2 separate regions of the Homo sapiens genome follow, and region 1 is linked to region 2. Evidence: fine-mapped expression QTL. A gene starts in region 2. The other region holds a variant in brackets. All regions are shown on one strand. Distances are between the middles of the regions.

Region 1 (4,390 bases), 240 kb before region 2:
AAGAAATACAGACATCTAGATTCATGAAGCTCAAAAGCTCAAGTCAAAGAAAATTACACTGAAACACATTATAATTGAATTCTGAAAAATCAAAGGCAAAGAGGAAATTTTGAAAGCAGCAGGAGAAAAGCAACCTATAATACAAGGAAACCCGCAACACACATACACACCACCATTACCACCACCACCAAGGCAATCAGTGGATTTCTCAGCAGAAACCTTGCAGATCAGGAGGGAATGAGATGATATAGTCAAAGTGCTAATAGACAAAAACTGCCAGCCAAGAATATTATACATAAGAAAGTTGTTGCTGGGCACAGTGGTTCATGCCTGTAATCCCAGCACTTTAGGAGGCTGAGGTGGGTGGATCATGAGGTCAGGAGATCGAAGACTATCCTGGCTAACACAGTGAAACCCCATCTCTACTAAAAATACAAAAATTAGCTGGGCGTGGTGGCGGGCGCCTGTAGTCCCAGCTACTTGGGAGGCGGAGGCAGGAGAATCGCTAGAACCCGGGAGGCAGAGATTGCAGTGAGCCAAGAACATGCCACTGCACTCCTGCCTGGGCAACAGAGCGAGACTCCGTCTCAAAAAAAAAATTGCTTTACTTCTCTGAGAAACAAATAATACAATATCAAGGAGTCAGAGGTGCCATCAGAGGGAAAAAAAAAAAAAGTTGTTCTTCAGAAATAAAGATGAGATAAAGACATTTCCAGACAAACAAAAGCTGACAGAGTTCATCGCACTAGACCTGCCTTATAAGAAATGCTAAAGGGAGCTGAGTTGAAACTAAAGGACACTAAATAAAAACATGAAAACACATTAAAGTATAAAACTCACTGGTAAAAATAAATATACAGTCAAATTCAGAATACTGCAATGCTGTAATCGTGGTACATAAATCAATTTTAACTAGCATAAAAGTTAAAAGACAAAAGTATAAAAATAACTATAGCTACAATAATTTGTCAATGGGTACACAAATATAAAAAGATGTAAAGTGTGACATCAATAGCATAAACTGTGAAGGAGGGAGACATAAAATTGCAGAATTTTTGTAGGTAATTAAAGTTTAGTTATTACAACCTTAAAACAGCCTAAGATATCTTATGTAACCCTCATAGTAACCACAAAGAAAACTAACCTCCAGTAACATATAAAAGATAGAAAGGAATTAAGCATACAATTACAAAAAAAAAAATCAAATCAGAAAGGAAGGCAGCAAGAGAGAAAGGAACAAAGGACCTACAAAACAGAGAACAACAAAATGGCCTTAACTATCAATAATTACTTTAAATGGATTAAATTCTCCAATCAAAAGATACAGAGTGGCTAACAGACTTTTTTAAGTATCCAACAATATGTTGGCTACAAGAGACTCACTTTAGCTGTAAGGACACACACAGGCTGAAAACAAAAGGATAGAAAAAGATATTCCATGGAAATGGTAACCAAAAAAGAATAGAAATGGGCTTACTTATATCAGACACAATAGACTTTCAGTCACAAGAGACAAGGTTATTATACAACAATAAATGGGTCAATTCATCAAGAGAATATTACAATTGTAAATGTATTAATATATATGCATCCAACCTTAGAGCACCTAAAAATATAAAGCAAATACTAACAGAACTGAAGGGAGAAACAGACAGCAATACAATAACAAGAGAGGACTTTACTACCCCACTTTTAACAATGGATAGGTCAAACAGTCTGTCAATAAGAAAACATTAGACCTGAATAAGAGTATAGAGCAAATAACAGACTATATGAAACATCCATCCAACAGCAGCAGAAAACATATCCTTCTCAAGTACACATAGAGCATTCCCCAGAATATAACATATGTTAGGCCACAAAATTAAGTGTTAAATCCAACTATGTTAAAATCATATCAAGCATGTTTTTCAACTACAATGGTATAAAATTAGAAATCAATAATAGGAGGGAAATTTAAAAATTCACAAATACATGGAAAGTAAACAATATACTCCTGACAAAACCAATGGGTCAAAGAAGAAATCAAAAGGAGAGTCAAAAAGTCAGGCCAAGCGCGGTGGCTCACGCCTTTAATCCCAGCACTTTGGGAGACTGAGGTGGGCGGATCACTTGAGGTCAGGGGT[T/C]TGAGACTAGCCTGGCCAACATGGTGAAACCCCATCTGTATTAAGAATTAGCCAGGCGTGGTGGCACATGCCTGTAATCCCAGCTACTCAGGAGGCTGAGGCAGGAGAATCGCTTGAACCCGGGAGGCGGTGGTTGCAGTGAGCCAAGATTGTGCCATTGCACTCTAGCCTGGGTGACACAGTGAGACTCCAACTCAAAAAAAAAAAAAAAAAAAAGAGTCAAAAAGTATCTTCAGGCAAATAAAATGAAAACACAGCATTCTAAAACCTACAGAATACAGCAAAGCAGTTCAAAGAGACAAGTTTATGGCAATAAACTTTAAGAAAATAAAGATCTCAAACAACTTAACCTTACACCTCAAAAAAATAGAAAAAAGAACAACCTAAGCCCAAAGTTAGCTAAAGTAAGGAAATAATAAAGAAATAAATGGGAGACCAGAAAGAAAATTCTAAAAAATCAACATAATAGTTGTTTGTCAAAAGATAATCAAAATTGACAAGCTTTGAGCTAGAATAACTGAGAAAGAGAATTCAAATAAAGAAAATCAGACATGAAAGAGAAGACATTACAACTGATCCACAGGAGTACAAGGAGAATATTATGAAAATTAATACACCAACAACTTGGATAACCTAGAAGAAATGAATAAATTTCTAGAAACATATACCCTAAAGACTGAATCATTAAAACAACAACAACAACAAAATTGAAGACTTTTTTTTTAAAAGAGATTCATTCTTGCTTTGTTGTCCAGGCTGGGGCACAGTGACACCATCATAGTTCATCAAAATTCTGGGGTCAAAGGATCCTCCTGCCTCAGCCTCTCAAGTTGCTGCAACCACAGGCATGCACCGCTGCAACTAGTTAATTTTTTATTTTTTTGTAGAGACCAGTCTTGCTATGTTACCCAGTTTGGTCTCCAACTCCTGGTCTCAAGTGATCCTCCCACCTTGGCCTCCCAAAATGCTGGGATTACACACTGTACCTGGACAAGTGAAGACATATTAATAGCTGAACAGACCAATAACAAGAAAGAAGACTAAAGCAGTAGTCAAAAACCTCCCAACAAAGAAAAGCTGAGGACCAGATGGCTTCATAGCTGATTTCCACCAAACACTTAAGCACAAGCTAGTACCAATTCTTCTCAAATTCATCCAAAGAATTAAAGAGGCAGGAACACTTCCAAACTCATTTTAAAAGGCCAGTATTGCCCTTATACCAAGGCCAGATAAGGATACTATAAGAAAAGAAAATTACAGGTCAATAGTACTGATGAAACTAGACGCAAAACTTTCAACAAAATACTAGGAAACTGAATTCAACAGCACATTAAAAGGACCATTCACTATAATCAAGTGGTTATTTGCAAGGATAGTTCAAAATACACAAATTAATAAACGTCATACACCACACTAACAGAATGAACGATAAAAATCACACAATCATCTGAAAAAGTATTTGACAAAATTAAATATCCTTTCATGATAAAGACTCTCAATAAATTAGGTAAAGAAGGAATGTACCTCAACACAACAATAAAGGCCATATATGATTAGCCCACAGCCGATAAATCTAACGGTGAAAAGTTGAAAGCTTTTCCCCTAACATCAGGAACAAGAAAAGGGAGTCCACTCTCACCACCTCTTCAACAGAATATTCGAAGTCCTAGTCAATTAGGCAAGAAAAAGAACTAAATGGCACACAAACTGGAAAATACAAGATAAACTGTCTCTATTTGCAAATGACATGACCTCATACATAGAAAACCCTAAAGCCTGCATAAAAAAATTGTTAAAAACTATTATAGTAAGTTCAGTAAAGTTGCAGAATATAAAATATACAAAAATTAGTTGTATATTTTTGTATACAACTGGCTGAAAGATTTGTACACTAAAAACTAGAAGACAAAGGAATTGAAAAAGATACATACAAATGGAAAGATAATCTGTTCATGAATTGAAACAATTAATGTTGTTAAAATGTCCATACTACTCAAAGCAATCTATGGATTCAATGCAGCCTCTATCAAAATACCAATGGCATTGTTTCACAAAAACAGAAAAAAGAATCCTAAACTTCGTATGGAACCATAAAAGACCGTGAATAGCCAATTGTGAGTAAGAAGAACAAAGCTGGAGTCATCACACTTTCGGATTTCAAACTATGTTACAAATCTAAACACTATGGTACCAGCATGAAAACAGACATCTATACCAATGGAACAGAATAGAAAACCCAGAAATAAATGCATGCATTTACAGTT
Region 2 (4,390 bases):
GTGCCACCACGCCCAGCTAATTCTTATATTTTTAGTAGAGACAGGGTTTCACCATGTTGGCCAGGCTAGTCTCGAACTCCTGACCTCATGATCCGCCTGCCTCGGCCTCCCAAAGTGCTGGGATTACAGGCATGAGCCACGGCGCCCGGCCAAGAACCTTCACTTTTAAGTTTGCAGTATTAATGTTGAATTAACAGACTGGCATACTTATCTATGACACAGGTAATGAAGGAAAAAAAACACCTCAGTAGACTCAACAAGGATATCACAAGTAATGACTAGCAAGCAACATTTTTTGAAAAATAAAATGTAGGCATAATTTCAGGCACAAGAAATGCTAAACGAAATAGCTTACTTTTACCTTAAGACTTTCCCCAAATTATGTGATTTCATTCCTACAAGGACAAGAATCACAGCTTACTACCAGCCATGCAAATGTCATTTTAGGAGTACACACAAGTTTTACCCAGTATCTTAGTTCACATTTGTCCCAATTAATTAAGTCTATGTATAATTTAAAAGCGAAAACTAGATATGTCAATTTTGTTTTCCTTCTAACTAATCCAAAGTCAAAACTGTTCACTTTACCAAATGAATTAACTGAATACAGTTAATTAAATCTTTTATTTATAATTAAAAATTGGAACACACACTTTCTCACTTAATACCTATTATGTCCTGTTTCCCATACCTCTCTATAAAGTAGAAGTATTTGCTGGAAGACAATAATCTGCTCATTAAGTAGGCACTTAGAAAAAGCAACGATCTGCAACTACTGAAATTCTTATCTGTATATTTCTCTTTTGGGTTACAAGAAAGCACTTCTCTGGCTATTTTCCCAAATAAACTAGGCAAGCCTTGGGAAAGTCACTGCTTAAATCCCACTTTCTGACAGCTTCTCTTCCTCCATAAATGAATTATTGAGAGCCATGTCTACTTCCATCCATTACATAATACATGTCCATCATGGGACCTGTTTTCTGAACAAGAAATAGCTTAAATGACACTAACTGATAAGTAGGGCCAGAGAATACTGTAATCTAACAGGGAGCAAGAATCCAGAAAAGAAGATTCTGATTTACAGTGCTAAGTTGTGAAAGAGTGATGTGAAGAACATTGAACACTGCTTACTCTAATATTTCCATACAAAGTGACACACCTGCCCCCAAAATGTTTTTAAAGCACTTGACTCCAAGAACATTTCTCAGAAATTGAGGAGCCTACCAAAAAAAAAGAGTTCCATTTCATTTTAAAGTGTTTTAATAAAGACTGCAAGAAACATAACTGCAAATGAGAAATAAAATTTCAACAATTTAGCACTGAACACAAAATGTCTAAAAGTCAAGGTGTACTGAGCAAGCAACACGCTATAAAAGACGGTTGTACTTTAAAACATTTAAGCATTTTTCATATAATTAGCTCCAACAGAACTATTCCAATTGTTCACTTTATCCACCCAAAGCAGTCAACCACAACCACCTGCAACTATTATTCAGCAATGTGCCTTCCAAAGCAACCACCTGAGTTTGGGGCCTTCTCTCAAGGGGCCAGGATAAAGCCTGTAAAAGGGTGGTATAAAGAGATCTTTTAGGCATTGGGGGGAAAAAAAACTGGAAGACACCACCTTGAAGGAGCTAAGCGTAATGCGACCCAAATGGTGGCTGCCGGAACGAAGTTGTCTAAACCGAAGATCTCCCTCTTCTTCGGTGTAAAACTTTCAGATACATCCACGCTCACAATTTACCTGAGCCAAAGTAAGGGGATTCTCTTCCCTCTCCGACCCCCCACCCACCCCGCCAGAAGAAAAAGAATCGAACCCTAAAGTAGAAACGTGAGATCTAGTGCAATAAAATAGGTTCTGCAACTGCCTCAAAGGCAACATGCACAGCTCATCGTCCTTTTGAAATACACTTCATCTTTTATCTCACCATTTCATCGAAAAGAAAAGAATCATCTTCAGCATTTTACATCACTCACCTAACCCAAAGATCCACCCTGACCGCACCCCAACCTCATGGCTCCCCAATTTCTCCGTCTCCCCACTACCTCGTCCGCGGCTTCACTAGTCCTAAGCCTCCCCCCCTCCGCTCCCCAAGTGCCCAGAGCCCCAGTCCCCACTCCCCCACCTCCCGCCCCAGGATCCCCACATCTACCGCCTCGGCTCCCGCCCGATCCCGGAGCCCGGCTGGGTGGAGCCCGCGGGTGGGCGCCGGTGGTCTGGGTGGGGCCCGCCCCTCCCCACCCCCCGGGCTGCCGAGGAGGGGGAGGGGGTCGCGAAGCCTCACCTACAGCTCCGCCCCTCCCCGGGGGCGCGTTGCCCTGCCCAGCCCAGCCCGGGCCGTGAGCAAGAAGCTGGGTAGGAAAGGCGAAAGCCTCAGCACTAGCGACAGGGGGGAAGCTCTGGGTCCCGCGCGACTTCCGCGCTGTCGCCGCCGCCGCGGCCGTCTCACCGTCCTCAGGGCTGCCGCTACTGCTGCTGCTGCCGCCCAGGCACCGCCGCCGCCGCCACTACCGCCGCCGCCGCCGCCACAGCACGGCCCAGGCGCCCGCGACGTCACCGCGCCCCGCCCCCTGCGCGAGACACCTAGCCCCGCCCCCAGCCCCGCCGCGGGGCGCAGCGCGCCTCCCCGGGCTCCCGGCTCGGCTGCCTCCCTTTCCCTCAGCCTCCCGGGAGCGTGACGCGGCGGCCCGGGGGCCTCCGGGCGCCTTCCGGGGCACGCGGGTGAGGAACTGGGAAGCGGGGGAAATCGGCGCCACGGCGGTCGATTAGCACCGAAACAGAGTGATGGGCGCGGAGCGTCCCTGCACACACACACACACTCACACACACACACACACGACCCCTGCGGCCACGGGAGGGGAGAGCCGGGGTCGGCTCCGCGAGCGCAGGGTGGCGCTTGTCTCCTCCTGCTTGCCGTAGGAAGTGGACGCTGGAAGCCCGAGGAGCCGCTTCGTGTCTTCCCAAACCTAAGCGGCGCCCCACCCCCTACTTCTCGTGGCCCGTTACGCCCGGGGCAGCCAAGCGCCGCGGGAGCAGCGCCGGGATCGACCCTGGCTGCTGGGGGGACGCTTTGTCCCAAGAAAGCTGGTTTTTTGCCCCTTAGCTTCGTGGAACGCGGCCGCGAAATTAGTGGTCTTCTGACCTGAGACTCGCGGGGCTGCGCACACGGGCATCGCCGAGGACCCCAGCAATGGACGTCGTGTCTGTGGTGATCCCGCCAGGACGCGGGGAGCGTGGGCGGAAATTAGTGTCCACGTTCCGACCCTGCGCTGTGCCAAACGCTGCTTCGGGAGCTGTTTATTTAGCCTCCGACAGCTAAGCGAATCGGCGGGCGGCTGGGGCCTGGTGCAACCCGATTTTCTCGTGCAGACTCGCAGCCGGCTTTGGTTTTGTTTTTTGTTTTTTGTTTTTTTTTTGGAGCCATGCAGAGGGTAGCTACAGCCATTAATTTAAGGATGTAGATAAGCTATCTCTAAACCAAGAAAGTAAGAATGGTGTGAATTATATTTATTCCCAGCCTTCCAGTGTTTATTAAAATAATTTTCGGTGTCCTTGAGAGGAGTTAAAAGCCATCATTTTACTCCTGCTTACCTCCGCCACCGTAATTAACCACTTTATACTGCCTCATAATCCCATTAACAAATTGCAGTCGCTCCTCAGCCTTCACATTCATTCACTCACCAGTTTCTACTGTTTCATCCTGCCCGGACTCTTAACTGTTCCCTCCCAGGATCGACATGCACTTGGATCATTGCAGTTTCTGGGCCTGCTGTCATCTCCCCCTTCAGTACTTCCCACATATGACTACCAACTGTTAGACGATGTGCTGCTGCCAGACCAGCCTTTCATTTCTTGGACATCCGGCTATTTACCCAGGAAAAGTCATCCTTTGACTATTTTTCATGACCTTTCTCATCTGACTCGTGATCTGCCCATCTTGTTACTCCCTAGCAGTGTGGTAAGGTAAGAGAAAATTCAACTAGGAGTCAATAGATATTTCTGTTCTCATTCTCCCACTGTCTACTTGTGTGGCCTCAGGCAATTCATTCTACTTGTGGTCTTACTTAACTGTAAAGTGAGGTTTGAAGTAGGTGTCTGAGATACATCATGTCCTTAAAATATGTGGATCTGGAGAATTAAGTTGCTAAGCGCTATGTTATACACGGAAATACTGTCCTAACACAGATTCAGATTTTTGTTTTTTATTTTTTGCCACCACACTGGCAAAAAATATTATTTCCTGCCCTGCTCCAGTTATCTTTTTTAAAACCTACGTTTAGGATTTTTGATTAAAGCTAGCTAACCGAGCACATGTATTTACTGTCTCTTCTTCCTGAGACCCCATAAAATGATGATAAATAAAAGTGATACAAAATAGAAAATGAGAAG

Direction of the effects. Alleles are on the strand shown, and positions count from the first base shown. SD is a standard deviation of normalised expression in the study named.
For the expression in lymphoblastoid cells of the gene that starts at base 2,550 in region 2, allele C in region 1 goes with a higher level than allele T (large effect, 1.1 SD a copy in GEUVADIS).

The links. PIP is the estimated chance that this variant, and not a neighbour inherited with it, causes the effect. A credible set is the group of variants that fine-mapping cannot tell apart.
Region 1: its variant is the best candidate, but not a certain one, in a credible set for the expression of ERC1 in lymphoblastoid cells (GEUVADIS, PIP 0.67).

What each region holds. Positions count from the first base shown.
Region 1 is chr12:1,227,957-1,232,346 of GRCh38, reverse strand. The region is part of intron 12 of ERC1 (ELKS/RAB6-interacting/CAST family member 1); the gene reads right to left. Among named protein-coding and RNA genes, the nearest start is that of ERC1, 240 kb to the right of the region's middle. The variant T/C (reference allele first, on the strand shown) is at 2,127.
Region 2 is chr12:989,383-993,772 of GRCh38, reverse strand. ERC1 (ELKS/RAB6-interacting/CAST family member 1) reads right to left here and starts at 2,550. Exons shown (of 19, transcript NM_178040.4): 1 at 2,451-2,550. It also overlaps a transcript of RAD52 not described here. RefSeq lists silencers at 1,736-2,030, 2,236-2,745, 2,766-2,875, 3,286-3,335 and enhancers at 2,034-2,595, 3,157-3,719.